3 separate regions of the Homo sapiens genome follow, and all the other regions are linked to region 3. The links come from fine-mapping of genetic effects on gene expression. A gene starts in region 3. Each other region holds a variant in brackets. All regions are shown on one strand. Distances are between the middles of the regions.

Region 1 (10,692 bases), 22 kb after region 3:
AAAGAAAAGTGGTTTCTTGAAATGAAAACTACCCCTGGTGAAGATGCTGTGAACCTTGTTGAAATAGCAGCAAGGCATTTATAGTATTACATCAATTTAGTTGATAAAGCAGTGGCAGGGTTTGAGAGGATTGGCTACAATTTTGAAAGAAGTTCCATTGTGAGTAAAATGCTTTCAAACAACATTGGTGGCTATAAAGAAATCTTTCATAAAAGGAAGAGTCGATTGTTGTGGCAGACTCCACTGTTGTCTTACTTTAAAATATTGCCACACCACTCCAGCCTTCAACAACTCCCACCCTGGTCAGTCAGCAGCATCAGTATCGAGGCAAGCAAACAATTATGACTTCCTGAATGCTCAGATGATCATTAGCATTTTTTAGCAACAAAATATTTTAAATTAAGCTATGCGCATTGTTTTTTTAAGGCATAATGCTATTGCACACTTAATAGACTGCAGTACAATGTAAACATAACTTTTATACGCACTGGGAAACAAAAAAAATTCCTGTGACTTGCTTTATTCTGATATTCACTTTATTGTGGTCTGGACCAAACCTGTAACTTCACTAAAGTATGCCCATATATAGGGTTCAGTACTTTCTGCAGCATTAGGCATCCACTGAGGCTGTTGGAACATATCCCCCAGATTAGGGGATAGAGGGGGCTACTGTATCTCTCTAATCAAGTGATCAAAGTTAACATCACCAAGAGTAGAATGAACAGACATCCTATATATCTCTCTCTCTTTGTTTTTTTGTTTTTGTTTGTTTGTTTGTTTGTTTGTTTTGACAGAATCTAACTCTGTCGCCCAGGCTGGAGTGCAGTGGCATGAACTTGGCTCACTGCAATCTCTGCCTCCTGGGTTCAAGTGATAAGTGATTTTCCTGCCTTAGCCTCCTGAGTAGCTGGGACTACAGGTGCATGCCACCACACTAGGCTAATTTTTGTATTTTTAGTAAAGACGGGGTCTCCCCATGTTGGCCCGGATGGCCTTGAACTCCCGACCTCAGGTGATCTGCCTGCCTCAGCCTCCCAAAGTGCTGAGATTACAGGCGTGAGCCACCACGCCTGGCCCTGTGTCTCCTTAACATCATGCACTCAAAAGGACACAGCATCACTTCTGAGGTATTTCTACCAAAATGCATAATCTGATTCTAATCAGATAAAATAAAAGTTTTGTTTCTGTAATTGGTTAACTCCCCCAAGAGGATAAAGCCAACCAATAAATGACTGAATAAAGAAAATGCACACAGTTAAGAGTAAATAAGTAAAGCAGACACTAGAAGAGATAGGAGATGAGATGTATGTTTTCTCCCTTTGACTCTGCAGGTCCTTCTTCATGGTTCATATGTGACAGGAGTACTCAGCTGAGTTTTTGAATGCCTGGGGTATCATCTTAGCCCTGGCCCTGGTCCAGCAACAATTTGCATTGTTGACCAAATTTTGATGTAATTATTTTCAGTAAAGTATAGTTCAAATGTCTTGTAGAGCCTACTTACATAAAAGAATTTAAAAAGAGCCAAACTCTGCATTTTCCATCCTCTTATAAATCTTACTGCATTGGCACTGATATAATTTTTAGACCAGTCCATGCTAAAAGGAGCATTCTTCAAGTATAGTGCAGTAAAGAGCATTTAGAATATGTTGTCTGAAATGGAGAAGAGTTTCCTACAAATAAGCACATAGGAAGAAAAATCCCAGTGAAAATGGCAGGGAGAGCAGGACTAACCAGTAGGTCAAGGCAAGCAAACACGGTGGGAACAAGTTAAAGGTAGGGGCAGATTGCAGGATCCAGGTTCTGCAATACCATCCAGACAACATTATGCAAATCTTTAAAAAGAAGCCTTTTAGTCAAAGTCTCCCATTGATATTTAAAGTAATCTCAAAGGCCTGAGAACCAGTATTTTTGACAAAAAGAAAATTCTCATATGCTTTAGTATAGATGCATCATCCCTGGTTTAAGCACTGAAAATTGGTAATTTTGTATTTACGTAATGGCTTTAGAAATACTAGATTTTATATCAAAGACTAGATTGATTTATGATCTAACATAAATAGTAACATAAAAGAGGTAACTTAAATAGCTCCCTCTTGTTCTAATGAAATATATTTTCCGTTGACTACAGACTGAGAGACATAGCAACAAGGAATGCAAACTCCTTTGATTCCATATGGTGAAATGAAAACCTTGGCTCATCCATCATTCTTTACCAGTTGCTTTGAGCAAATAAATGCAGAGTTCTATCCTAGGAGAAGTGACTCCAGTTTTCCTCGATTATCAATTCAAAATCCTCTTGTGTGTAGCAAGGAGGACATACCCATTTAAATTAAGTTGATCTGGGAGACCAATGTACATGTCTTAAACTTGGTCTGCCTGGGACAGCAGATACATCCAGCCACAACTACTGAGAAAACAGCAAGATAAACAGGTAAAGATAAGGATTTAGAAGCGGCATCAAGTGCATGCCTAAATGAACCTGGGACTTGGCAGTGAGAATTACAGACCTTAGCTGAGATGAAGGGAAGGGAACACTAAAAATAGCCTTGACCTTGATGTGAGTATGATGTGAGCCCGGGAAATCCTACCTGAATGCGTCTTTGTTTTACTGTGGCCCTTACCTTACATTTTCTGGCCAATGTTGTCCTTGATGGCCCTATATATGTGCTTTTCATTCTCTTACACATAAATTGATCTCTTCAAGTTCAGGGGGAGCAACTGATCCTAGGAATCCTTACGTATCCAAAGGCAATTGCTGATGATTGTCCTGGGGATGTTTAACCGGTTCCTATAAGGTGGAGGCATCATGCCGAAGAAACTTAAGTGTATACCCCTCTCTACTTTTTCATTTCCAAGGGGAATTAGACAGCTTGGGATTTCATGGATGTCCAAGGGTAGACATCAGAAGTCAGGAAGGACAGAGGCTGATGTTTCTATTGATGCTCAATTTTCTGTTTTCCTTTTCAAAGAAAGAAAAAGGAGTGGTCCCTAAAATTCTCTTATTCTGGTTAGCTGGTGTCAAGGCCACAGTGGGCATCATAAACACCACCAGGTCTTCCTGCCTAGGTCTTCTATGTTCTAAGAGTAACTTTGTGTTGGGCAATACAGGGCTGTCCAGGTTACATGGGTCATAGTGGAAAGGGCAGTGTTATCTGCTGGGTAAACTTCACCCCATCTAGGTAAATTTACAGGAAAGGGCAGAGTTATCTGCTGGGTAAAACTTCACCCTTTCTAGGTAAATTCACAATTTCCTCTCTTGAGACCAAAACGTAGACCTTCCCACTGCTAAACTAATTCTGCCATAGTGGCAAACTCTTCCTTAACTTTTTGCCTCCCACCTGAAACTGATCCCCAGATAATGCTATCTCAAGAAAGCAAGTGCTGCTCAGGGGTTTGGAGGCCTAACTCTCTGTCCTAGCCTGGCTTGGTGACACTCCAAGGGAGTATTTCACACATGTTCCTTAGAAGATGTTGAATTATTTCTCTTTTATCATTCATAACTTAATGTCATTGATACAAGTCTGTCTCCAGTATGTTTAATTGAAAGTACTTTACATCAGGTAAGTAACTTCTGGCCTTTGACTCTGAATGTTTGAGAGAAAAATTCTATCTAGATTTATAAAACTATCACTTGATAAGCCTCCTCCTTCCTAGTCAGATGGGTGAAATACTTATGTTAGTTCTTAAAGACACAATCTGTAGAGATGTGCTTCCCTCTCTTGCAATAGAACTGTAGCTTTACGTGGTAAGACTCGATAGGGAAAAGCAGGACTTACGCAGAGAAGTAACTGCATATGTTACACTGGGGCAGTCTTTGGAAGTGTGTTGGGAATAGAGATGTGAAATGAATGAGAACTGTACCACAGGAATGATATCTTTGAGAACAATATCTTCCTTGAAGATGACTTGCCCCAGTGCTTAAGCTTGCTTCCCCATGCCTTACGTGTTCCTCTGTTCCGGCCCTTGAGAAGCTCTGTTATATCACCATTCTATGGTATAAGCAGGAGATGCCAATAGACATCAGTTCCCAGTACCACATCCTTGCCTCTGTTGATGGCTGTGCTTTCTTTTTTAATGGGCAGTGGCCCTTTCTCCCATTCCACTGTATGTAGAATTTTATCTGTTGAACATAAGGAGCAGTTCATCCAGGGATCCCCTATGATTGGGACATTTTGCTGAGTTATGCTTATGATCAGCAGTAGTCCCATAGAGGAGGCTGCTGCAGGGTTGAATATCTTGGCACTCTATGCCTTTGGAGTCACAAAGGACAACCCATTAGCAGTAACAGCCAGGGTTAGGGAGTCTCTGGATGAGGAGAAGGCATCATTGGCATTCTTCTTCCTTCTCCAGACTTAGCATCCCCTCTTTGTACTATCTCACAGTTCCACCACATTCTTTAATTTTTCAACCTTTTTTTTCTTTCCTTAAGAGGATTCTGATTCAGCAGAGCAAAGAAGGGGAGTGGTGCTCCTTTTCTAGGATCCGTCAACACAGTAGCTTCATCTTCAGATAGGATTCTGACCCCTCACCCTCAGCTTGGACCAATAACTTGCCTAACCATCCCCTTCAGAGCTTCCCAGATTTGTATTTAAGTACCTATCCCTGGTACTTAAATTCCCAGATAACTAAATGATATGTGATAATTCCAAGTTAATTGAATTACATTTGAATTGCAGTTCTATAGACTTTGGAACTTCTATTCTTTCCATGGCAGGGGAATGTGCACAGATAATGATATGGTTTGGCTGTGTCCTCACCGAAACCAAATTGAATTGTATCTCACAGAATTCCCACGTGTTGTGGGAGGGACTCAGGGGAAGGTAATTGAATCACGGGGGCCAGTATTTCCTGTGCTATTCTCATGATAGTGAATAAGTCTCACAAGATCTGATGGGTTTACCAGAGGTTTCCACTTTTCTTCTTCCTCATTTTTCTCTTGCCACTGGCATGTAAGAAGGGCCTTTCACCTCCTGCCATGATTCTGAGGCCTCCCTAGCCATGTGGAACTGTAAATCCAATTAAACCTCTTTTTCTTCCCAGTCTTCTGTATGTTTTTGTCAGCAGTCTGAAAACAGACTAATACAGATCATGCTTATAATGTCTGGTAAACTAAGTTTTAGTTGTAGATTCAGATGTTGGGATAATGGGACTACATTGTCAGTGACCTTGACCATGGGAGGGAGATACTGAACTATGTCTCTCTGGGAATGGAGCCATAATACAGGGAGGGAGAATGAGTAGAAAAAAAGGTGCAAAATACTCTAGAATAATAGAGGTCTCATTAGAGAGTAGGGGAGGGAGAATGAGAAAGTGAATGAGAGAGAGAGAAAGAGAGATGTTAGAGAAGAGGGACAAAAGAAGAGAATAGATAGAAACATCCAATCCCTTATAGCAGTCAGACAGCCTCACTTCTATTGATTCTTTTTTTCTTAAACCATTTAATTTCATAAGCAAATAATTTGCATACTTCAGTTTACATAATTATTTTAATTCTTTGGACAAGCTTATATTCATTATTTCACTTTTAAGGACACTTACCCTGAAGGGTAATTTTAACTTGCCTAAGATCACATGACTGCTTTTTCATTGTGAATCACTGTTTCTCTGGGTGAGATGGTCAGC[C/T]CAATTTCCCAAACAATATTCCAGTCTAGCGTGGAAAATTGTGACTAGAAAGAGCAAACAACCTTGGAAAATAGTTTTATTACACATTATATAAATGAGAGATTCATATCTATGTCAGTTAGTGCCAAGCCCAGAAATCAGAGGTCATTCTAAATATTTCAAGCAAAGAGGGATTTAATGCAGACAATTGGTTACAGTGCTCTTAGAAACACAGAAAGAACACAAAAAAGAAGAGTGTTATAAAGACACTGGAAGCTGCGATTGAACCTGGACTGAAGCCTAGCTGCCCTTGCCCTCTGTCTGCTGGAGGTGCTGCCATTGATGCTGAAACTGCATCCGGGCAACTGAGCAGGAAAGTTAGGAGTTTATCTTCCTGCTGCTGCGGCTGAATGCATGACTGCTGCTTTTACAGCTGGATCCACACCACTGCAGCTGAGCAGGAAATGCAGGAGTTTATGATCCTGCTGTTGCTGCTGAATGCATTGCTGCTACTTCTTCAGTTGGATTCATACCATTGCAGCTGAGCAGAAAGTCAGGAGATTACACTTCTACTGATGTTGCTGCCACATCTTGATGTACCATTAATAATAGAAAATAAAATGGTTTCCCTCTTCTTTTATACTATATTCTCTCAGACTCCACTGTCAATGAAACCTGGAAAAAATGGTTTTCAGGCTCCCATTTCTGCCAGTTATTCAGAAAAGAGCATTACAGAGTAGGGGTAGAGCTGGCAATTAATAGACATAGAGTCAACATAGTTCACCTGCTGCTTATACAGTGTCCATTTGCCTCCCTTGTACCCTTATTTAAATTTCATTCAACAACAATCACAACAATATGGTGCTTTTACCTAACATAATTAACAATTTTGCATACAAACAGAAAAGCTGTCACTCTGGATATTCTGTAATTTAAACACTAAATTGCACAATAGCCATCATCCCACTTTATATGTAAAATAGGATAAGAAAGGGAAAGACGAAAAAGGAAACAGCTGATTAACATACACAAATATTGCATAACAGACGAGGAATAAATCATGTGTAACTGCAGTCATCATTTCTATGACTGGTTGTTAACAGATCATCAGCTTCTGGTGATAGTTGCAATTTCCTCTTCTGCTTTTCTATGCTTCCTTTTTTTTTTTTTTTTAACGATAGAGTCTCACTCTGTGGCCCAGGCTAGAGTGCAGTGGTGTGAACAACACAGCTCACTGTAACCGCAACCTGCTGGTTTCAAGCGATCCTCCCCCCCAGTCCCTCGAGTTGCTGACACCACAAGCATGCACCACCATGCCTGGCTATATTTTTAAATTTCTGTAGAGACAGGGGTCTTGCCATGTTGCCCAGGCTTGTCTTGAACTCATGTGTTCAAGCCATCTTCCTGCCTTGGCCTCCCAATGTCTGGGATTACAGGCATGAGTCAATGCACCCAGCCTCATGTTTCCTTTAATCTCAAGCAGGTCCTCCTCAGGTTGATATTATTTACTTAGTGGTGTAATTCAAACTTTAGTTCTTGAAGAGTCTGAGCCCCTAGTAGTCCTTTTGGTTGAGTTGCTATAGTTTTACATTAACTTTTATTACTGGAAGCACTTCAGAGAATCTCTTGGGTTCTATATGTTGTCAACATGTCCCATTGTGGAGAACATTGTATTTTCCCTTAATAGAGATCAGTTACCTCACCTTGGCTGTTGCTTCAGTGACATGAGGATTCCTCAAAAGGCCAGGTGATGGTCTTATCTTTTAGATCGATGAAACCATCATGTCATGTGGTAGAAGTGCTCTCCTTTCAGAATTAAGACCTTAAAAGAAGCAGAGTTTAAATTTATAGGGCCAGGAAATTGAAATTTTTCAAGCTGGTCATTGAGTATACTTCTAACCCCTGATTCCTGTAACTGTGAAATCTGGCAATTATTAAAAAAAATAGCATCATATTTTGACTGGTGGTTCAAAGAATATACCACATTCTTTGGGACAGCATCACATCTTTGAAGGATGTCTTTGTTTGTTTATTTGTTTGTTTGTTTTGAGATAGGGTCTTGCCCTGTCACCCAGGCTGGAGTGCAGTGGAACACACATGGCTCACTGTAGCCTCAACCTCCTGGGTTAAAGTGATCCTCTCGCCCAGCCTCCCAAGTAGTTGGGGCTACAGGCATGCACCACCATGCCCGACTATGTTTTTTCATTTTTGTAGAGACAGGGGCCCCACTATGTTTTCCAGGCTGGTTGGGGGATGTTTTCGGTCAGAAAGTAGTATGACTACATCTTCAGTAGGCCATTCTAATGCTCCGCAGAGCTGAGTGTTTCTGGATAATGGAGCACATGGCAAGATCAGTAAATTTAATGAGTGTCAGCCCATTGACCCACTTTATTTTCTATGGAATACATTCATTGGTCACTAGCTGTGGTAGGCTGAACAATGATGCCCCAATATGTCTACCTAGTAATCCCTGAAACCTGTAAATGTACTATATTATATAGCAAAAGGGATTTTGCATATGCAGTTAAGAATCTTGAGATGAGGAGAATATACTGGATTGTCTGTGTGGTCCCAATGATACAAGTGTTCTTATTTTTTTTATTTTTATTTTTTTGAGACAGGGTCTTGCTCTGTCACCCAGGCTGGAGTGCAGTGGCACTATCTCGGCTCACTGCAGCCTCCACCTTCTGGCCTCCAGCGATCCTCCGATCTTAGTTTCCTGAGTAGCCGAGACTACAGGCACACGCTGCCACGCCCGGCTAATTTTCATATTTTTCATAGAGATAGGGTTTCACCATGTTGCCCAGGCTGGTCTTGAACTCCTGGGCTCACACAATCTGCCTGCTTTAGCCTCCCAAAGTGCTGGGATTACAGGCGTGAGCCACTGCGCCTGGTCACAAGTGTTCTTATAAGAGGGGGTCAGAGGGAGGTACCACTACGGGAGAGGAGAAGGTGACATGATGACAGAAGTAGAGGCTGGAATGATGAACTTGAAGATGGAAACAGGGGTAGCAAGCCAAAGAACATTGATGGGCCACTAGAAACTGAAACAGGCAAGGTGACAGATTCTCCCCTCAGCTCCAGTAGAAACTAGAAACCAGTACTGCTGACATTGACTTTAGTTCAATGAAATAATTTTAGACTTCTGACCTCCAGAACTGTAACTGAATAAAATAGTATTGTTTAATGCCCTTAAGTGTGTGGTAATTTTTTACAGCAACAATAAGAAACTAATAAAGCATCAATGTTCTGTGGAATATGAAGATTCCAAATAAGTCCTTTGCAAGAGTATCTGTGAAGGCACTGTGTGCAGGAAAGGGGAAATCCATTTTCAAAATAACTATGTTTTTTAGTGATGATAAGTTACTTATCCTACCATTAGGAAAGGGGTCTAGTAAAATCAACCTAACACCAAGTAGCTGCCTAGTCCCCTGAGGAATGATGCTACTATTAGTAGAAGGACTCAGCATCAGCTATGGTCAGGTGGATATTCAGCAGTGGTGGTAGCCAGGTCAGCCCTGGTGAAATCCATGTTGTTGAGCCAATGCATAGCTTTCATCCCTACTGCCATGAACATTTTTAACCTCATCAGATTGAGTGACTGCTAGAGTGCTTGGGGAAAGAGACTGGCTGACATCTGCAGAGCATAGCATTTTCCATGTGATTACTGAGAACATCCTCTTCAGTGGGTACTCTTGAGTGAGTATTCACATGGAACACAAATATCCTTATATCCTATACTCATTCTGAGAAAGTTGATATACTTTCTCCCCAGATCTCCTTGTTACTAAATCTTCAGTTGTGTTCTTTCCAAGTGTCTGATGATCTGGCTAGCCCATGAAGTAGTATATATTAGTAACTTGAGCCAACTCTATCCAGAAAAAATTACAAAAAACAATCAAACTTCTAGAAGATATTCTAAAGGGGAGGCTCTCTTTTCTTCATTTTATAACACAAAAGCTTTTAATAGGGCTGTAATTCTGCATCATGCATTTCTAGCCTTACACCAGCACAATATGCAAAGCCATTTGTAATCACAACCCATTTATTTTTTTCTCTGTCAACTGAAATTAAAGAATTTCAGGTGAGGCCACAGGTGTATGCTTGAGGGAGGAGCATCAGAGCAAGAGGAGTAGGTGCTGTTGGAGTCCCAGCCATCTGCTCAGGTAGCATCCACTGCTTCAGCGCATGCTCACAGTGTCACTTCCAAAAGCTTTTTTATAAAAAAAAAAAAAAAAAATAACATGAGGCTGGGCATGGTGGCTCATGCCTATAATCTCAGCACTTTGGGAGGCCAAGGCGGGTGGATCACCTGAGGTTAGGAGTTTGAGACCAGCCTGGCCAACATGGTGAAACCCTGTCTCTACTAAAAAACAAAAATTGGCTGGGTGTGGTGGATGGGGGCCTGTAATCTCAGCTACTCAGGAGGCTGAGGCAGCAGAATCTCTTGAACCTGGGAGGTGGAGGTTACACTGAGCCATGATTGCACCATTGCACTCCAGTCTGGGCAACAGATTGAGACTGTCTAAAAAAAACAAAAACAAAAACAAAAACAAAAAACTAAAAACAAAAAACAAAAAACGAACAACAACAAAAAGTAATGTGAAACCTTTTCTAGGGAGATTAAACTTTCCAGTCATCAAACCTGGTCATATTACATCTACAATTATCCCCTACCTTCTTGCATCATCAATTTCTCCATCTTTGCCCAATATGAGTTCAAAAACATGCTTTGGAAAGTTCCAAAGTCCTCCATTGACTCCACATTTCCCTGGAGATGCAGATCCATTTCTCCACTCCCTGTCACAGTAGATTTCTTGAAATAGTTATCTTTACTCACTGTCTCTACCCCTTCACCTTCCATTCACTCTTCAGCTCATGCCATTCTAGCTTTTTGGTTTGATTTCTCCAAAATTGCTCTTGTCTCTGTCATTAATACTTTACTTGCTGAAACATCCCTCAGGTCTATATATATATACTATATATATATATAGTATTTCACAACTTCATATTCTCTTTATTTTCCTCACATTAAACTGGTGACTCTTTTTACATCAGTACAATGTATTTTCCTTGTCTATAGGACCGAGG
Region 2 (10,692 bases), 30 kb before region 3:
AAACATTACTACTATTCACATATTTAACTTTATAATTGGTGACCTAGTAGTCCACTGGTTTCCTTTAACACAGTTTGTTTAATGATTCCTATAACTTTGAACATTGTTAAGCTATTTATTCTGCTAATTAAAAAACGAAGTCACCAAATAAGCCAGTGCCCATAAGTTAGTGCTTTAAGGCAGGAGAGTGAATTTTTCTCCTAAATTCTGGGACCAACCCTCCATGCAGAGAAAGCTGTTTGTATGTCCAATGCTTACTGATGATCAGGTAAGCTCGAATGTCTTTCACCCACTCTCCCACATACCATAGTGCTTTATTATTATTATTATTTTTAACCCAATGAGTCATGAGGAGCTTTTTTGAAAAACCAAGATTCCTTTAAACTTTGGCAGTGCCACGGTGCAACCAGAGAAGGCTGACCAGTACTAAGCCATTCCACTGAGCTTGGCCAGGCAATCAACCCACAGAAATGATCTGCTCTTCATTTCTCAGTGGGGGATAAAGGTGGAAATCATCACACATATAAACATCCCTACAAGAAAAATGCTTAAAACGTCACTTCTACCTAGCCAGCAAGAGTGTCTGTTCTGAGGGTAAATTAAACCAGTTAAAGATTAAAAATTACAACACGGGCACAGCTGGGCCTGAAAACATGAGGATTCAAGCAATAACAATTGGTAACTGTCAAAGATATAGCTAAATAGAAAGAAGCTGACTCTGATCTGATGCAGTCTCAGGGCCACTTGGTCTACCTCAGGACCCCATTATAAGTCACATAAACAAATTCCATAGCTGGCTACTAGTCTTCTCCTTCCCAGGCTCTTGTGTCCCGCAGACCATCTTCCAGGTGCCATCAAAACTACTACCTGAGAGACTGTCCACTCAGAATCAGTAAGAATGTAAGGAATCACCAGATTCCATACATTTTATTTAAACTGCCCCAGCATTTCACCTCAGCCTACCTTTTTTAGGCTTATTGTTCCAGACTACTTCCCTCATGCTATGCTCTAGCCAAATTGAACTCCCACTGTTCTCTCCTATATGCCCTGTGTTTTCCTGCCTTTGTATCTTTGCATAAGCTATCTACTTTGTCTAGAATGTGTAAACACAAAAATCCTCTCAAAACTTTGGTTGCTTAACTATTGACTTGCTGGCATATATTCTTCAAGGTGCATCTCATCTGCTGCCTGTTCTGAGGGGCCATTTTTCCATACTTTATTATTGATAACAATAATTGGGAACATTGACTGAATGACTGAATGCTGAGACTATTCCGAGCACTCTGCTAAAGGTTTCATAGACTTATCTCACAAAATGATAAAAGTATAACATAATGTTGTAGAGTACAGAATGCCAGGGTTCAAATCCTGGCTCTACTTCTTGTTGGCTGTATGAGCTTGGATGTTTATTGACATTCTGTGTCTTCACGTGTGAAATGTGGATAATGATAATACAGCTAATACCAAATAGAGTTACTATGAGGAATATGTGAAATAATATATATATATAAATCCCACAGAACAGTTTCTGGCCAATTCTAATTATAAATACCTGATGCTGTTATTATAGTACCTCACAATATGCTACAAGGTAGATGTCATCATTATTCCTGATACAGGAGGTAGAAGGAAATTATTTAGGTAGATAGCGAGGGTAAAAGAATCCTCGGCAGAATTTCCCTTTTAACAAAAAGCAGCCCCAAATCATTTCTTTTCTAACAAAGAGCAGCTTGAAAAATTGAGCTGCAGACATAGATAAGCAAGCTGGAAGTTTGCACAGATGAATACTGGCAGCTGTGCCAATAGAAAAGGGCTACCCGAGGGCCAGGTATGTTCAACATGGAGATGCTGTCTTTCCTTTTCTTTGTCACCACATGTACAATAAAGAAACAGGCAACCTGGCACTGGCCAGGTAGAGAACCCATCTGCAAAATAAAAGCTTAGGGTGGGGGTGGCCATGCAAATGGCACACCTAGCCCTAACCAGTTTTTCATACCTTATGCAAATAGCACACTTGGTCTGACCAATCTTTTGTGCCCTATCTAAATCAGACACCACCTCCCCAAGCTCATCCATAAAACCCCTTGCATTTCACTGTGAACCAGAAGACCTGCTTGGGACTCCTCTCTCTGGAAGACAGAGGTTTTCTCTTTCTTTTGCCTATTAAACCTCCACTCTTAACCTCACTCTTCGTGTGTCTGCATTGTTGGTTTCCTTGGCATGAGACAACGAACCTCGGTTATTACCTCAGATGAATGATGCCGCTTCATTCCCACTTAAGAGATGAGAAAATTGAAGCTCAAAAAGGTTGAAAACATGTCCTAAGTTACATGGCTGATAAGTGACATCTAGAACACACATATAAATTTGTCAATTTGAAGCCTCTTATTTTCTGCAATATAGACAAACTGGTTGTCTTTTTGATCTAGGAATTTTCCTTAGGGCTAAACAATAACAGCAAAAAAAAAAAATTCACTAACATTTATTGAATATTTACTATGTGCCAGGCATAGTACTCAACACTACTCATGCATTATCCTACTTGATTCTTACAGCAGAATGAGCAAAAGGAACCCTTTTTAATCCTTATTTTATAGAGGAAGAAACTTTGCTTTAGAGAAACTTGTTCAGTCACACAGCTTACATGTGACAGAGCTAGAAGTCAAACCCTGGCTCTTACCTAAAACAACATCCTGCCTAGTGGAAGCTATTCCCTTACTCTTCTTTTCTTCCAGTTCTCTTAGTGGTAGCTACTTCTGTGTCACTTGACACTCTGTGAGTTGTGCATATATCACACACTCCTGCTAACCTGCCAGTCACCTGAAGAGTAGGACCCTGCCCTATACACCATCGCCTACCTAGAAATGTCTTCCAAGTAGTGGATGCCTAATAAATGTTGGACTGAATTCAATGTCACATTGGAAGTTGGATTATAAAGAATCAAATGGTGCATAAAAATATTTTGCATATATGCTAACACTTTAAATTATAATGGCAGGAGGCTTGAGTCCAGTTCCTTTATGGATGAACAATGAATGAGAAAAAACTGTTGCAATAGTTAAGAAGCTCAGCCCTGAAATTGGATTGAGCTGATTATCTTGCCCCATACTTATAAATGTTTTTGTTTGTTGGTTTGACTTATCCATTCCAAACCAGTTTCCCCATCTATAAATAGAAGATAAGAATAATATTTCCCTTTTAGGTTTGTTGATAGGATTAAAAGAATATTCATGAAAACTACTTGGGATCATGACTCATACATGGTTAGCACTCAGCAAGTTTGCTTCATAAATAAAAACTGATTTTTAAAAAGTCAAATAATTACAGAATAGCTCCTTATCATCCCAGCAATTACACGTCTAGATCTAATATCTTCCTCAGGAAAGATCACAACCATTGCGAAATAAACTTAAGTGAAGATGAGGGAAGAGAAAATAAAACACTCACTTGGGAAAGGTGCTCTGAAAGGGCCAAGCATGTGAGAAATGGCAGGAAGGAGGCCATTTTGTGGTAAACAGCTGCGTTCTTAACCCAAGGGACACAATCCTCATATGACGCCTTTGTGTTGTTAAGATGTGTGATAAAGGCCCCATGGGGAGGGTTTTCCTTTGTTCTCCAGTCTCATGGAGAGATCACATGTTATACTCACTTATTTAGAGACTCTCATCTCTAATTTGTTAAGAGCTGCAAGATTAAGACTGATGTAAAGTCTGAAGGCCAATAAGAAAAAATGAGTAAGCACACCCATTTCCCAAGGAAGATATCACTCATGGTGCCAGAAAATACACACACACACACACACACACACACACACACAAAAGAAACCTATATTACATGAAATTGCAGCATTTGAAGGTTTCTATTATGAACTGCACTGTGTTTTCCCAAAATTTATACGTTGAAGCCTTAACCCCGATCCCAACGTGGCTGTATTTGGAGATAAGAAGGTAATGAAGGTTAAGGAAGGTCTTGAGAGTGGGATTCTAGTCTGATAATATTGGTATCCTTATCAAGAGAGGAAGAAACACCAGAGATCTCTCTCCTAGTGCACAGAGAGGAGGCCATTGGCAAGCCAGCAAGAAAGGCCTCACCAGAAACCAACCCTGTAATTACCTCGACATCGGACTTCCAATCTACAGAACTGTTGAGAAAAAAATTCTGCTATTTAAGCCACCCAGTCTGTGGTTTTCTATTGCGGCAGCCCAAGTAGAATCATCCACTAACATTTGTATTAAATTCTTTCCCATCCACCTATACAAGTGATGGTTATATTTTCCCTGTTAAAAGTCAGAATGACTTTTTTTTTTTTTTTGAGACGGAGTCTCACCCTGTCGCCCAGGCTGGAGTGCAGTGGCATGATCTCCACTCACTACAAGCTCCGCCTACCGGATTCAAGTGATTCTCCTACCTCAGCCTCCCAAGCAGCTGGGATTATAGGCTCGTGCCGCCAGGCCCGGCTAAGTTGTTTTTTTGTTGTTGTTTTTTTTTTTTTTTGTATTTTTAGTGGAGATGGGGTTTCACCATGTTAGCCAGGATGGTCTCCATCTCCTGACCTCGTGATCCGCCCTCCTCCGCCTCCCAACGTGCTGGGATTTCAGGCGTGAGCCAGCA[T/C]GCCCGACATGGATGACTTTTAAGAGAAAGGACTTTTGTATCTCTTTCAAGTCAAGTGGTGTGTTTGGGAGATGTAGTTTGGCTTTCCTACTTTAAACAAAAAGAAAAATTAATTACTCCCCCTCCCCCCACCCCCTTCACATAACCCTTGTTTTGTAAAGTGTCTTTATTAGGAGTCTCTTCCATAAGTACCTCCCTCTAGACATTAAGCAAGGGCACAGGGCCACAGGGAGACAAAGACCAGCTACACAGCCAAAAGCAGTGTGCGCTCAGCAATAACACAGGCTCTTTGTTAGAGGAATTTTACTCTTTTTCCTTCTGAAATTCTTTCTGGTCGAAAAAGTTTTTACAATTCCATCTCCTTAGGCCAGCCACACTTGGCACATTTGGGCAAGGAGGGTGGCATAAAGGTGTGGCCTGCCCTGATGGATGAGGTTCTGTAGGACTGCAGGCTTAAGTGGTGCTGTGGCTTACACTGATAGAGAGTACTCATCTGTTTATTCTCCCTTCCAAAAAGTATTTTTGAGGATCTGGGTTAGAGCAGTCAAGCAATAGCCAAAGTCTGCCGTCAGCTTATAAACTAGTATGAAAATACAGACTACCATATAAAAGCAACCAAATTAATAAATAAGAGACTTTCTGATGATGGGGAGTACTACAGAAAAGAACATAAAATAGAGGAATGGATGACTGTAAGTTGTCATTTGGAATGAGTCTGCATTGGGATCAGGAAGGCTTCTCTCAGGGATGACATCTGATACATAAGGAGGAATCAGTCATGCTGAGATGGGGAAGGCGAATTCCAGGCAATTAGTACAGAGGCCCTGTCAAGGGAATTACCTCGTTTTGTTTAAAAATCTGGATGAAGTATGGAGTGCCTGGGGCCAAAAGGGGTGCTGGATCAACTAGGCCATGCAGACCAAACTGAGTACTGTAAACTTAGTGCCTGAGAAATCATTGCAGGGGTTAGAGTTAAGTGAGTGACATGACCATATTTCATTTTAACAAGGATCACCCTGACTATAATACAATGACCCACAGGCCAAATCCAGCCTGCAGCCTACTTTTGTAAATAGTTTGACTGGGACACAGCTATGTCCAGTCATTTAAATATTGTCTATAGCTGCTTTTGTGCTACAACAGGAGAGTTAAGTGGTTGTGACAGAGACCTACCTTAAGGCCCACAAAACCTAAAATACTTGCTACTGGGCCTTTGGAGGAAAAGTTGGTTGCATGGCAGCAGGAGGCTGTGCAGTTATCCTTGGTGGAAGTGATGGTGGTGATGATGGCTTGGCCCATGGTGCGGGGTGGCACTATAGATATGGGGAGATGGAGAGATCTAGGACATGATTTGCAAGAAGAGACAACTAAATTTGCTGGTGAATTAAACATCAAGGGAGATAGAGGAGAGGATTGAGAGGACTCAAAATATTTCTAGCTTTTTGGCTAGAACAACTGAGTGGATAAGAAGGCCATCTGCTGAGATGGGGAGTTCTGGGGGAGGGGCAGCTTTGTGGGAAGAGTGAAAATGAAGGACTGCTGGAGAATGTTCAGTTTAAAATGCCTTTTTATAGGGCCTCTCTGTTGTTATTTTCTCAGTCCAGCACAAGAAATTGCAAAGCAACCCAATGACTTTTATCTCCTCCTCATTCTATAACACAAACAAAAGCCATGTGACCAATGGCATTATAGCTGGCACTTCCTTGGATGCTAAACCACAAACTCTCAAGGCAGGGACCATGCCTCTAATTGCTCAAAATTAGATTTCCGTCTCTACCCCAGCACCTGACTCATAGTAGAAGCTCAATAAATATTGGTTTTGAAGTGAAGAAATAGTAACCGGTTACTGAGAACTTACAATGGCATCAGGAACTGAGTAAGGCACTTAATACAAGTTACATTACTTAATCTTTTCAAGAGTTCCTCAAGCTAGTTGCTGCTATATTAATTCTACATACAGATTTAGAAACTGAGGCTTAGAGGAAAGGATGAAAAGCACAGATGCCTTTCCTACAGGGTTGAGTCAGGAAATATGAATGTGTGAAGGGGACCATGTACTGAATAATGGTGACTGGCAAGGCAATGACCTTCCTTAAGTGAGCAATGGCTCCTCAGCTGCCACCGAGCGTTGCTCTGTGCAAATGCAACCACACGATATGGTCAAGTCTGATTTTTCAAGAGAAATTGAAAATCCAGTTTATTTGATAAATATGAAGTTTCTCCATTAAACATAAAATAAATTCTTTAATGCCTGCTCATTGTTCTAGATCAGGCATTAAAGAATTCGGTCTTAGCAACTACCACTCACACATTCCTCAGTGTACTAACCATCTTCCTTGTGGTAGAAAAGCTAATCTACCCCTTAGTAAATATTATTGGTGAGTCTGGTGTAACACATTGTGCCTATGTGCTCAGCAGAATGTATTTTTTTTTTTTTTTTGCTAAAGATGTTTCTTATAATAGCTAAAGGTTCCACTAGGCACTTACTTTTTGGTCTGGAACACTGTAGCCATTTTCAGATGATGACCAGAGTGAAACTCCAAATCATATTGTCTGAGTGGCTAATGAATTCCTGTAGTCCTCCTAACGCAATGATGCAACTACACTGACATCACTGACATCACTGTGCCAACAAACCATGTGATTTTAGAATTAAAGATATTAAATGCTTCTCCTCCCCCTTTTTAAAGATTCAATTCTTGTTACTACCTTTGGTTTATGGTGACAGGTTACTCTACTGATGGTTCCAACTTAAATAATTTCATAAAAGGGAGATTAAAATGCTATCGTTGGCTTATCTTTTCAATTTTCAGCACAACAACCTCTAATTTGTAACAAGGAGAAACATTTAAAGCAAGAGGATGTTTGAAGTGTCCAACAAATTCAATCTGGTGAACAATTAATGAATGACTATTATATGCCAGGATGTGTCCTGGGCCCCAGGATACAAAACAAATAAGCCATTGCCTCTGCCCAGGAGCACTATCTTTCCAGTGGAGGAGGAAGACCCATAAAAATAATATATCGAGACACATGCTATAATAGAAGGATTACAAAATACCCTGGGAACTAAGATAAAAGGATGATTAACAATGAGGACATGGTGGCAGAGCTGAGAGAAGTCTAGCTTAAGGAAAGCTACAGAGGAAAGGTTACAACTCAGCTCTCACTTTAAGGATGACTAGAGTTTCAGAATTCAAGTCATAAGAGTTGCATTTTGGGTGATACAAGCAAACAGCTACTAAAAGTTTACCGTGAGTGAGGTATTATTGCACTCATAACTCATTCCTCACAACCCAATTAAGATTGGGTTTTCAGTCTCCACTTTTCATATTAAGAAAGTGAGGCCCAGAAAGGTGAAGTAATTTATCCAGGGCCTCATAGCTAATTATTGTGAAAACTTATATTCTATTCCAAGTCTATATAACTTGAAAGCCTGGGCTTTTAAACAGTAAATGCTATCACAAGGTAGGGTGAGCAACATGTGGACATAAAATATTGTGGTTTGAGGACTACAGATTAGGCCACTATGAGTGGAAGAGAGCTTGCATCAAGGAGCTTTGGGGGTAGGTGTGCACATGAAGAGCAGCTGTGAATATTTCAGTGTAAGGCTTGCAAAGTAAACTGGGTACAGATTTTATGACTATAGAGTTGGAGCGTTATTCCATAGGTATCAAGGACTTTTGGGATGCTTGTAAGAATCAGAATAACAAGATCAAGAATGAACTCATTAGACAAATCCAAGAGTTTTGAACAAAGCTTTGGAGAAATTAAATGCTGGCAAATCTACTAGGAGGTTATTGAAACAATCCAGACAAAAGACAACAGTCTTAAATAAGGATACTGGCAGTGAGGACAAAGAAGATTAGGATGTCCCCCCTTTTGGGACTGAACCAATGTATATCTTATACATATTGATTGATGTCTCATGTCTCCCTAAAATGTATAAAATGATGTCTCCTGTCTCCCTAAAATGAATAAAACCAAGCCGTACCCCAACTACTTTGGGCGCACTTCATCAGGACCTCCTGAGGCTGTGTCACGGGCTCATCCTTAATCTCAGCAAAATAAACTTTCTAAATTGATTGATGCCTGTCTCAGATACTTTTGCGTTCAGACATAATAGCAACACCCACAATAGTGATACACGGATGTTAAAAATAACGTTTAATTTGATGTTAGGCACCATTCTTCCAAGTACCTCTGTAATTTGTATTTGTTAATTGGTGAAAACTAACCAAGGCAGATTAACTTTTATTTTTAATTTTTTTTAGAGATAGGATCTCGTTATGTTGCCTAGGCTGGAGTGCAGTTGCTACTCACAGGAGCAATCATAGTGCATTTCATAGTGAACTCCTGACCTCAAGCAATCCTCCCACCTCAGCCACCGGCATAGTTGGGACTATTGGTCCATGCCAATGACCCAAGCTCTTTTTTGAAAGTAACTAGTCCATACACAAATAATGAATGACTAGGGGTTTCTGAGCATTCCATGATACTAGGATATAAGTCAATTAAACACACACCCTTTGAAGAGCCACAATGAAAATTGAAATCATTTAATTTATTCTGCATATATATGTATATCCTGTATTGCTCTAACAAAAAGAAACACAGGTTATTTGCAAATATCCATGTGAAAGCATGAGAAATAAATGAGCATATCAGTGCAAAGGGAAGGGACCAATAGGAATATTTACATTCTTTTCAAAAAGGAATATTCTCTTTGATTACTAATAGTTTGACTATAATGAATTAAATGGAAGTACAATTATTTGAAAGAATTATTATTCCTTTCAAAGCACCTTATAGATTCATGTCGTGACTGAAGCATCAGAGAGAAGAATTCTATCAAAGACAACTTGTATTTGTGTTGTCTTTACAGGAGAAATCATTTAAGTCAGTAAAGGTCAGTTTTAAAAAAATGATAGGGAGGCACCTGCCCTCACTCCTTACTCTGGTACACACACAAATTAGAGCATTCTAACCACCCAGCCTTAGAATTATTGCAGACGTTACCTTCTGAGCTATTCAAAAAGCCTTTGTTCATGAAAAGTTCTCATGGTTATAAGACATTAAAACAGGAAAGACCTTGCTCGGCATGATGTGTTGTATTTATATTTCTTTTTGTTTGAGGAATTCAAAAAGCTTTACAAACAACATCCAGTAAATCTCTTTAAGACTGTTGCTCATGGGAATTCTTTTCCACTCAATGCAGACTGGGACAGGTAAAGGGAGAACAAACACTGAGAGAAGAAAAGGAGGGTGGATGGGTAGCTGCAGATCTCTAAAGTCACCAAGAAGGTGCAGGGCTACTCACATTTATCCTCCTACAGGGCCTGCCAATATAAACAGCCTGTGCTCTACCCTTCCCATGTGGTAGCTGCTGTTTCCAGATTTACCATCTGTTAACACAGGTGCACAACAGAGAACAAAACAGCAGAAGTGCAGAGTAGGGAGGTAAAGAACAGAGGACATGAAAAATCAACAATTACAAAGTACTGTCTGTGTTCTGTAAACTGTGCTAGATGCTGTCATATTTTATAGTAGGTGCTCAATAAATGCTTATTTTCTTCCCCTTCACACAATTTATGCTATCTGATTAAAAGAAACTAGTTTTTTTGGTAGAGAAAAGGAAGAGAGTCCCTGTGAATTAATGTTGCTGATCATGAAATAAATGAATGTATGCATGCATGGAGGCATAAAGGGAAAGGGAGGCATGGTGTGGGGTCATGATCTGTTTACATGGTCCATACAGTGATTACACCCAGGTAGGACCCATTCCATTTGTAGGAAATATGACTATGAAAAATAACCCAAAGGATAGAGGTAGCCACTGGGACCAAAAATGCAACCTTCCTGTAAACTTTTTTTCTAGTAAAGTGGACTATCAAGGGCGAGGGAGAACCCTTCACAGGTGAAGTCACTATCTTAGTTCTTGATGATGGTAGCAGAGCTGAGACTGTGATGTGGCATTAGGGAAACTCTTCTTACTCTCTCCATCCACATGATTAAATGTGGTCCTTAAATTTTTATAAATATCTATAAAAAGACCTTCGAGAAGTAATAGCTTTCATGAAA
Region 3 (10,692 bases):
GCCTCCCCAGCCCTGCAGAACAGTAAGTCAATTAAACCTCTTTCCTTTATACATTACCCGGTCTTGGGTATGTCCTTATAGTAGTGTGAGAACGGACTAATACACTTGGTTTATTCTGAGAAGTCGTTTAAATATCTTCCCATAATGGATTTGAGTTGCTTAACCAAGGTTAAAACTACAGGACAGGCTGGGCATGGTGGCTCATGCCTGTAATCCCAGCACTTTGGGAGGTCCAGGCAGGCAGATCACTTGAGGTCAGGAGTTTAAGACCAGCCTTACCAACATGGTAAAACCTCGTCTCTACTAAAAATACAAAAATTTGCCAGGCACGGTGGTGAGCACCTGTAGTTCCAGCTACTCAGGAGACTAAGGCACAAGAATCACTTGAATCCAGCAGGGGGAGGTTGCAGTGAGCCAAGACCATGCCACTGCATTCCAGCCAGGGCAACAGAGTGAGACCCTATCTCAAAAATCATAATAATAATAAATTAAAAATTAAAAAATAAAACTACACGACATACCACTACAACACTGGGGAAAACTAACATGAATCTGAAACAGATGTGTTTTTGTTTTTGTTTTCTAATTGTTGCTGATATATGCACCTGGTGAAACTCCTAGTGACTCAAACAGGGATTTCACTGCCTTGGATTCAGACCTCATTCATTATCAGCAGACAAAGAATGACCAAGGTTAATTTAATACCCATTGTAAGATGCAGTGGCAGGTCAGGTTAACAGAGTTCATATTTCCTGAATATAATGCCTGACTCACGACTGCTTTAAATCAAGCAGGATCTATCTGTATCATAAGAAGTATTTAAAAGTAAAGTGTGAACACTCTCAAGTGGGGGAAAAACAGCTTGAATCGTCAAGAAAAATGCATGCGGAAATTTAAAATTCAGTAGAGACACATTTGTTGACACGGATAGATGGCCACTATACATAAAGCAGAAGCAATATAAAACAATGCATACAGTATGGTCCATGTATGAAACTGTGTCTGCATGTGTCTCTATGTGCATATACAAAAAGATCTAAAAGGAAATATTCCAAAATGCTAACAGTAATGATTTCTTGATGGTAGGCTTATGAGCGGTTCTCATCTTCCTTTTACACATTTCTGTATTATCATTTTTCCATAATGAGGATGTGTTATTTTTAAATATAAAAAAAACTTTAAGCAACAAAATTTACTTGTAGTAATGAATAATGATTTAAAGAATAATTTTTTTAGTGTGACAGGTCCCATTTTTACTGCAAGCTAATTAATTATAAAGGACACTTTTTCCAAATGTAGAATACAGTTCAGACGCCATGATTTTCTATTTGGCCAGGGCTGAATTACCCAATACTTACACCAGTATGTGCCTAGGGCATTAATAAAGAAAAAGAGACACCAGAAAATTAGAATATTTGAAAAACAAATAAATATTTTTGATAGTTCAGAAAAATGTAGGAGAATTTGTTCAGAGAAAATATCAGAAAGTCGTTGAACTGATGCACACTTATTTTATGACAATATCATTTTTACTTTTAAGAATGTGTAGGTGGAGAGATAATTAGGACATATAGGTAGGAGGTGGCATAACTTTTTTCAAGATTCAGGACCTACAGGAATTTTAATCAGATCCTAAACACGGAAAAAAATGGTCACCTCCCAACCTCTATGTCATTAAAAACAAAAACAATATTTATCTATAAAATAAGTGCATATTAGCCCAACAAAGTTCTGATTTTCACCCAAACAAATGCTTCTACGTTTTTCTGATATATCAAGAAGCCTAGATTTTCTCTAAAATGCTTTTTGTGTGTGTGAGCCTTTTTTTGTTTTGTTTTGCTTTGTTTTTGTTTTTTGTTTTTTTGCCTGATACCCTAAGCACATAGTTAGTGTATTTGGCAATTAAATATGGCCAAAGAACAAATTTTGGTACCTGAAATATTCAAATAAAATGAGCCACACAACACAGATTAGTAAATTGAATTAAAATTATCTTACCAATTAAAATTCAAATTGGTAAGATAATTTGCTACCTTTCTACTGTTGTAGTTTGTGCTCATGAGACTAGGGATCCAGCCTGTTACACCACTCACCAAACACAAATTTGGACAAGTCTAACCTCCCTGAATCTGTTTCCACTTATTTTAAATAATTATTACGACACTAGCTTTGCTGATAATGATAGAATTGAAATGATAGAATATAAACTGAAATTGATAGAATATAAAATGAAAAAGAATGGAAAAATGACAGAATCATAAAAACTTGTAATAATATAAGGTGAAGTGATGGTACTAATTACAACTATATTGTTTTCAACATTAACTGTTTCATGGATGTATATCTTATATTCTCCAAGGAAATTCTTTCTTGCTAGCATACGCAAATGCTGCTAGTCATATAAAACCTCTACAAATAGTTGTTAGTCAATTTATTAATTTATCCTGCTTGAAAGCACATTTTCCCTTGATAGAATAATAGTGGAATGTGTAAACAGGGAATTGCAACACACTTCACAGAGTAACAACCAAGTATAAACCTAATTTATGTCTTTCAGTAAAAGACCATCATTGCGTTATTTATGTTAAAACTTCCACAGTAAGCTCCAACCATGAGAAACAAAGCATTGACTTTTCATGAACCAAAAAGAAATGTAGAAAACTGTTAGACTCTCCAAATATTGCCTAAGTCATCCTGAAGCGGACTTGTAGCAGGCACATAAAATCAAAATATGTTCTGATGTCACTTGAAATAAGAAACATCCTATTACAAAGTGAGAAATTAATTAGTGTGTCTTAATTAAAACAAGTTTTACTAAAGACTTACATACCAATCAAAATATTTAACTTTAATATTCTAACATGAATGACATTTTTAAGATAGCATTTGAGTGGAAGATTAGTTTGTTAAACAGCACATTTAAACATTAATTTGTATATACCTTTCATATAATTTGTTTTTTTAAAAAAAACAACTTGATGGCCCTTGAATTACTTTGTACAAAGACCCCATTAAATAACACAGTACATTTTTCAAAATTAACTATACAATATGAAATAATTTTAATATAGGTATTTGACATCATACTCCATAAAGCTGCTGAGAAAGAAGGGCTCTTATGAACAGGTAAATGTTCAGTTTCCTGAATTCTGGCAGGATTACATGTAAATTTCTCTAAGAAGATGATCAGCTGATTTCTTTACAAATACCTAGAACCTGTAATTTAGAAGTCAACTACAAAATGGAGTCTTACTGTTATAACCTAGAAGTGTCTTATCTTAAACAACTAATGTACTCTCTCAAATAAATGACTCACTCTAGAAAAAGCAAGAGAAGTTCTTGAGAAGGAAATCTAGTACATCCTAGACAAATGCATATCTAGGTCATACTTTTGGAGGTTTTGATGAGAGAAGAATTCATTGCTTTATCTGATTAGCCAGTTGACTACTCACACTTACTATGAGGAACTTCTACATTTGCATATTTCTCATCTTCATAATTCCTCATAAAGTTGAAGCCCATTGACTACATTTGAGGTTCCAAAAAATAGCAATAAGCAATGTCCTGTGCTTATGCCCCATGCTTAGCTTATCTGAAACAAACGATTGCCATATTTCATTTTTCTCTTCTCTAAATGAAATGATCCTAGCTTTTAAAAATCTTTCCTCAGAGAGTTCAACTTCTAGTGCTTGAAACACACTTCACTTTTCTATGGCCCCTTAGCAAAGGCCATATAATTGTCTTAAATAGTGGGGTCAAAAGCTAGACCTGTATTTCTATCAGGGTAATAGCTGACACATAGCTGAAACAGGCTATCTACAAGGAGTTTTAAGCACATGGCCTAAGGGATTTGCCTCTGTTCAAACTGTACCAACTTTGCCTATAAAACCACCTCCAAATGAAAACTCAAAAAAAAGAAACAAAAACAAAGCCCCAGGATATCTGCTTTCATTGCATGAAATGGGGTCAACTAGTACAAATCTTAATTTTTTAAGTGTGCTATAGGCATATCTAACATTTTAATTTTTGGAAGTCAAGTGTTATCACTAAAAGATTCAGGATGCAATGTGTTATACAATTTGTTATAACATACAAGCCCAGTACCTCTTTCCTTGCCCTACTTCATATAGTTGTTAAAATTAGGCACAAAGTAGCATGAGTTTACAAAGCTATGGATCTATAATATATAACATGCTATGAGCACATGCACAATTGAGTCACCAAGGGCCCTTCTCATGTATAAACCAAATAGAACAATTATTCTCAGCAAAATTAAACTATAAACCTGGTTCAAATACATGTGAAAATTATAAATGTGGGGGGTGTATGTAGAATCAGATGCAAGACTAAAGACCCAAACAATTGTTATTTTACATTGTAAAAAATGTCTGTACTGACAATGATATTGTTAGAGAAGAGAATAATGGATAAAACTATAATAGCCCATGTGGTAAATGTAATATTACTAATACACTTTACCTACATAATTTTTTCTGGCTTTAATTCAATGAAATCCATTATCCTGGGCGGGAATGGAACCTCCTCATCTCACGCATCTTTAGTCTCCTGAACTGCCTTAAAGCCTTGACATAATAAAAGGTCAAGCAGATCCCAGTAAGCATTTGTAAATTACAATAGACCCCCATTTCAGCTACAAGCCACACATTCTCCTGCTCGCTTTGCTCACTCTCTGGTTTCATTTCATTGTATAAGCAGACTAATTTGGAAACGGCTGGGCTAGGGTGCTTGGGAATACCTAGATTTTCAAAACAATCCTACTTTCCTACTTAATTATTTACAGAAGGAGACCCTTAATACAACATCTGAGAGAACTGTGAAATGGTTCCTGGATACTGAAGGAATGAACATCAGATAGCAGCACTATTAAATAAAATGAATACATTTCACCTTCCAGCTTAGCTGTGCTTCCTGGGACACAAGGCACAAACATGAAAAGGTTGGGGTGGCATTTCAAGAAAACTGATTTGCTTCAACATTGATTTGGTAAGATGCTAGACACAAAATAATACCACAAACCGCCTCCCATTCCCATCATTGTAAATTCAGAGTCCTCAATATCATCCCCCACAAACCCAATTAAAAATAAAGAGGCAGGCTACAAATTTGCATCTAGTTCTATGACACAGATCAAACGATAGGCATCTGTTCCAATCGGTCACAATGAAACTAAGGGACAATAACCAGAGTAAATTTCACATTAATCCAAATAAAGCCAATGAATAATAATATAAACCAGAAGCATAGTTTCAAAAACATGCAATTACTTCCAGGCATGCAAGGACATATGTAACCCATAAAAATGGTTGCAAAGCACACCCTACATATAAATATGCTTCATAAATGCAATATAAATGCTAAGTGACATGTGTATATATGATCTGTATATCCATAAGATATACATGTGTAAGTTCACAGTCAAATCTACGTATAAAATAAAACTGGGTCTTGCAAATGATTTCTCAACAAGAGTATATTAGAATATAAAATAAAATGTCAAATTCTGGGGCCACTTTTTCTAAGCAATCAATAAAATAAGCAAAACCACCTTATAATGAGTCTGGTAAGCTTATGAGACACCAAATGTATTTCTGAAGAAGGCCCAACCCTGTATGTGAGAGCTGCAAATGAAATGATTCCTTTCAATAACACCCTCTTCTTGTTGTTAGCTCTTTTTCCAACCCCTGATGCTGTTGCTAAGCTTAGGAAAAAAGGCACCAAGTGGCTCAGTCTGCATTCTGAGCCAGTTAGAGATAAAATCAGAACACCATTTTTTTTTTTTAAACACAAGAGGTTGTCTTCTCACTTCTCTCTTCCTGGCAAGCTTCCTCTCCCTCCATCCTCATCTCTGTCTCCACATCTCCCCCTTCTAGTCTGAGGCACGGGAGTCATTGTTCAAGTTCAGGCCAGAAATGTATACACAGGTCAAATAAGAACACTCTAAACCAAGAAGGGAGCCCTACTGTTTCCTACTCACCATGCTGAGACCCGGAGAAGCTGTTTAAAGGAGGGAGAGATGCAAACTGAATCCATTTTCCTTGTGACCGAGTCGGATGCAGCCTCCGAACCCAACATCAGCAGTGGCTGCCGGTTTTTTTTTTCCCTCTGTCTCTGGTTGGCGATGGTGCGAATAGGAACCACCCTTCCAGCCCCACTAGAGTATCAGCAATAGAGGCGGCGGCGGCGGCAGCAGCAGCAGCAGCAGCATCACCAGTTGGGCCTCCTCCCTCTCGGAGGATGGGGTGAGCTCGGAAGCAGCCAGGAACTTGCAGCAGACACCTCCTCTGGCTCCTCCTCTCTCTCTCCCCCTCCCCCAGTGCCCCACCCCTGCTGCGGTAGAGGCTGCTGGCCCGGCAGCTGCTGGTTGCCATGGCAATGACCAATGATAAGCGACCAAGCTCAGGGGGAGGGGAGATGGGCGAAGCAAGCTGCAGGGTCTGGAGGGGAGTGAATTTGTGCTGCTGCCCTCTAGGATGCTCTTGATGTCTCCTACCCTGAACTCCAGGTCTTTTTAAAAATGGGGCAAGGGGGGCTAGGCACGGGGAGAGAATAATTAAAATTTAATTGAAATCTAGATAGAAACATACCAACGGCTTAGCTATTTTTTGCATTTTCTGTGGTTTTCCAATAAAAAGTATGAAATTTATTATCAGAAAAATAACAACAAATGTGGAGAAAATTATGTCGCATAATAGCAGATTATTATTACTTCCAAACGTGTTCGTCCTTTATAGCATCTTTTACTCAATACCAGGCAACAAGGTTTTTAGAAAGCAAACGGAGTGGCTGGACTTTGTAATAAATTAAGAGTCTGGTTGATTCCTTTGCACTACTCCCGGCTTGTTCTCAGGTGAGTTACTTGGTTTCACTGTTTTTCCAGCTACCCTTCTGAACAGGACTTGGAGGTAATTGACACATCCCTGAGGAAAAGTAAGTTTGGATAGAGACCGAAATTCCTTTCAACAACCACTATTCTCGGTAGCACAAGTTGGTGGACAGTTCCCAATCTTTTTAGTGTCAAACTCCTGGAGCATTCAATTTCCTGCAGGCAATTCCTGTCGTTTTCATGGATGCCTTTTTGGAGTTCCGAAGTCAGTTGGCAGTCAGGGTGGTGGGCAGGAAAAGGGGGAAGTGAAATCAGCAATGTCCAGTTCTAGGCGAGTTCTGTTTCTAACTATAAATTATAGATGACACCAGTATTTATCTCGTGGAGGGGTTGTAAAGATTGAATGAGATAATGCACTAAAAGCACTTGGCATATAGTAAGTGTACAATAAATATTTACTATTAGCAGCATAGTAGTACATTGCAGCCATCTCTTAATCTAAGGGTTTAAGGGGAATAACATGGCAATTTCAGGTAGGAGAAAAAATTAAGATGAGAAAATCCAAAGTACGTAATAACCATGATGATGATGGCAAAGACAGAGAGGCCCTAAGAGATTAAGTGTTCTCTACATCTTGATATTTGAGGACATTGTAAATCTCAGAGGAGTTAGATACATTTCCCAAATTCACAACTGATAAACGACAGAACCGGAATCAAAATGGACTCTTCTAACACTTACATTTGCTCTCCTAACCACCACACTTTTCTGCCACTCCTCCATAAAATGGAAATAATCTTTGTTCTTAATCCACAGAGTTATTTACAGGTTCAAATGGGTTTAACACAAGTTCCAGAGTCAGACGATCTAGGCTCCATTCCTAGCGCCAGTATTTACTATAGGTATAATCTGGAACATATTTATTAACTTCCTCAAATCTATGTTTCTTCATCTGTAAAAAGAAATAATCACAGAACCTCATGAGTCATTACAAAAATTAAACTAGATGACGTGTGTAAAATGTACGGTCTTTAGCAGATAGGAAATGTTCAATAAATGTAGCTACAGTTACTTGTTACTCATTTGTAAGTAACTAATATTAAAACATGAGAAGACTTTTTCCTGCATGGTGTCACTCTTAATGTCAGGGGCTTCTTCTAATAAAACTGGCTTGAAGATAACTAGGTGATGAGGAAAGAGTTGCAGCAGTTCCCCAGCACGTGACACTGGCTTTCCATCCACTTGGTGGGAAAGCCTGCAACCTCCTTTGTGCAGCTAGTGTCCCCTGCCTTCTGTCAAAGTCTCAGCAGCCACACAACCTGCACACACTTCCAAGTCAGCATCACCTATGTGTAATGTGTAACATAAAGGAATGGGATGTGATCATCTCGCTTCTTTTTGTATTCCTGTATTTTATCTTCTGCTTTCTCTGCAGAGATGTTCTTGTAAGTAAGCAGACCAGGAAGCTGCAGGCTGTAGAAGTTATGACACACTAGATGACAGAACCCTCCACACTGTCCTCGGGACAGCATTTCATCCTTAGCGCTAGGAGCCAAATGTCTAGGGGTGGGTGATTCTAGTTTTTCCTCTCCTCCCATCAACATAAAACAGCTGGTCAAGAGTCAATTGGTAAGAGAAAAGTTTGGTGTTTCCTATCTGAAGAAGTATCCAGTTTAACCATTCAAATACAACTTACTCATTTGTTTTTGGTCACGTCCAGGCAGCACTGTTATCATTATTTAATAATAGTTTTCCCTTATTTGCTTTAATTATTTATGATTTACTTGATTTGCTATTTATTCATTTTTTAATGAAATGTTTCTCTGACTTCAGCAAAACATAAATGAAAATTGACATGGTAAAGATAATGGACCCATATGAAGGAAACGAAAACAAATTCTTAATTTTTTTAGTAAAACAAAGACTTCAACTTTATTTATAATAATTTTTAATTTAAAAAGAAACATTAAAACTCTCACCTCTCTATTACCATCCCCTCTCATACCATGTTCTATTTTTCTATATACTATATATAAAATTAATATGAATAATATACTATGGGATAATATAACATTGCTTAATGTGGCATGCTATACTATAATGTGTACTGTATTGTATATTAGTAATATACTGTATTATTCCCTATTAGAATGTAAACTACGAGAGGGTAGGGATTTTTATTTCTGTGTTTTTTTGTGAATGGTGTCTGGGCCATATTAGGTGCTCAATAAATATTTGTTGAAGAATAGACCAGTAAATAAATAAAAGAATAACTATCTGCATTGAATCATGGCTCTGTAATTTATATATATATAAAAAAATAAAATAATACATATAGTATCATTTGTTCAGATATATTGTTGATATTTCTCATAATTACTTAGATAATTATACTAATTACCTCATCTAGCACACATGCATATTAACGTAATGTTTATCTGACACAGATTTTAAAAATACACAGTTATGAAAGTAAACATGTTTGCTCACGTATGTTCGAAGTCATCTAACATGTCCTCAGTGGGTAGGCATGGTGTTCTTTGGGAAACCCTGATTTTCTTCTAAGAGCTTCTTGGCCAATAGTACTAATTATGACCAAACTGTCTGCCTCTCCTGGGACTTTTACAACTTTGACTTCTGAATTCTGTGGGATGTCTGAAAAAGTACAGGGTATGGGTCTTGGCTCCAAAAGTGGCATTAAAATTTCAGGAGATACCACAGCATAATGGGAGGAAGCTGCAAAGTGTGGGCTCTGGAGACAGACTACCTGGATTGGGTCCAGGCTTTACCATTTCTTTTCTGAGTGACCTTGGACAAGTTGCTTTATTCCTCTGTGGCTCAGTTTCTTTATCTGTGTGACATGATAGCAGTACCTACCCCACTGAATTATTGTTCTGAGGGATTTGTTTGCACCTTGAAACATCATTTATTATCTCATAGTGTTTGTGGGGCAGAAATCTGGGAGTGGCTTAGCTCAGAGCTTCTGGCTCAAAGCCTCTCATGAGGTTGTAGTTTAACAGTTGGCTGTGGTTGCCATCTCATATGAAGGCTTGGCTGAGTTAAGTGAGTCCAAACTCACTCCTAGGGTTGTTGGAAGTCTTTGGTCCCATTGAGTCGTTTTTGAAGTTTTTGTGTGCAAAATGTTAAGGAGTACCTGGCACGTAATAAATGACAAGTCATATCAATATGGTTATAAACACAATTTTATTAACTATGGTTATGCCTAGCACATTTTTCTGGATGTTTCCAAAGCACTCAGATCACTTGGGGTTATTCTACAAGCTTGCTGTTAATGGCTGCAGACCAGCTGTCAACAGATAATGAGGAATTCTGGAGACGCTTATGTCACACTTAGTCAAAAGCCTGATTTCCCCCAAAAAGGGGGCAAAAACAAAGGCATTCATAAGTGACTGTTGTTTATCCCCTGCCTCCTTTATAAAGGATTATTAATATAGTATACATTTATATTAATATAGTAATACATTTACAGAGAACATTAAATGTAAGCAGTAAGGGTCTTCTTGAGTTTGCTAAGAATAAAGGATCTCATTCTGACCTCACTGTATGTCCTTTATCAATAGTATCAGTAAGCAAATATATTAGAAGAACTCTGCTATGAACTCTACACTCTTATGGCCAATGATCTTACAGATGACTCCTTGCATAACAAGTAGACACTTCTGTGTTTGCTCAGTCCATTTCCTCTTGAGGTTCCTTTGTTGCCTCAATTCTTCAACCTTTAAAATGTATCCATCAACTCCTTCAGGGGATCTTCACTGATACCAGGGTTAGCATTGTACTGTGACACATCCTAACTACACTTAACACGGTGAATGGTAAATATTCTT

What was found. PIP is the estimated chance that this variant, and not a neighbour inherited with it, causes the effect. A credible set is the group of variants that fine-mapping cannot tell apart.
Region 1: its variant is the best candidate, but not a certain one, in a credible set for the expression of JAKMIP2 in monocytes after LPS (Fairfax 2014, PIP 0.74).
Region 2: its variant is the best candidate, but not a certain one, in a credible set for the expression of JAKMIP2 in aorta (GTEx, PIP 0.74).

The regions. Positions count from the first base shown.
Region 1 is chr5:147,798,509-147,809,200 of GRCh38, forward strand. No RefSeq gene overlaps it. Among named protein-coding and RNA genes, the nearest start is that of JAKMIP2, 21 kb to the left of the region's middle. The variant C/T (reference allele first, on the strand shown) is at 5,623.
Region 2 is chr5:147,746,778-147,757,469 of GRCh38, forward strand. The region is part of intron 1 of JAKMIP2 (janus kinase and microtubule interacting protein 2); the gene reads right to left. Among named protein-coding and RNA genes, the nearest start is that of JAKMIP2, 31 kb to the right of the region's middle. The variant T/C (reference allele first, on the strand shown) is at 4,612.
Region 3 is chr5:147,776,461-147,787,152 of GRCh38, forward strand. It overlaps JAKMIP2 (janus kinase and microtubule interacting protein 2), which reads right to left and starts at 6,268. Exons shown (of 22, transcript NM_001270941.2): 1 at 5,996-6,268.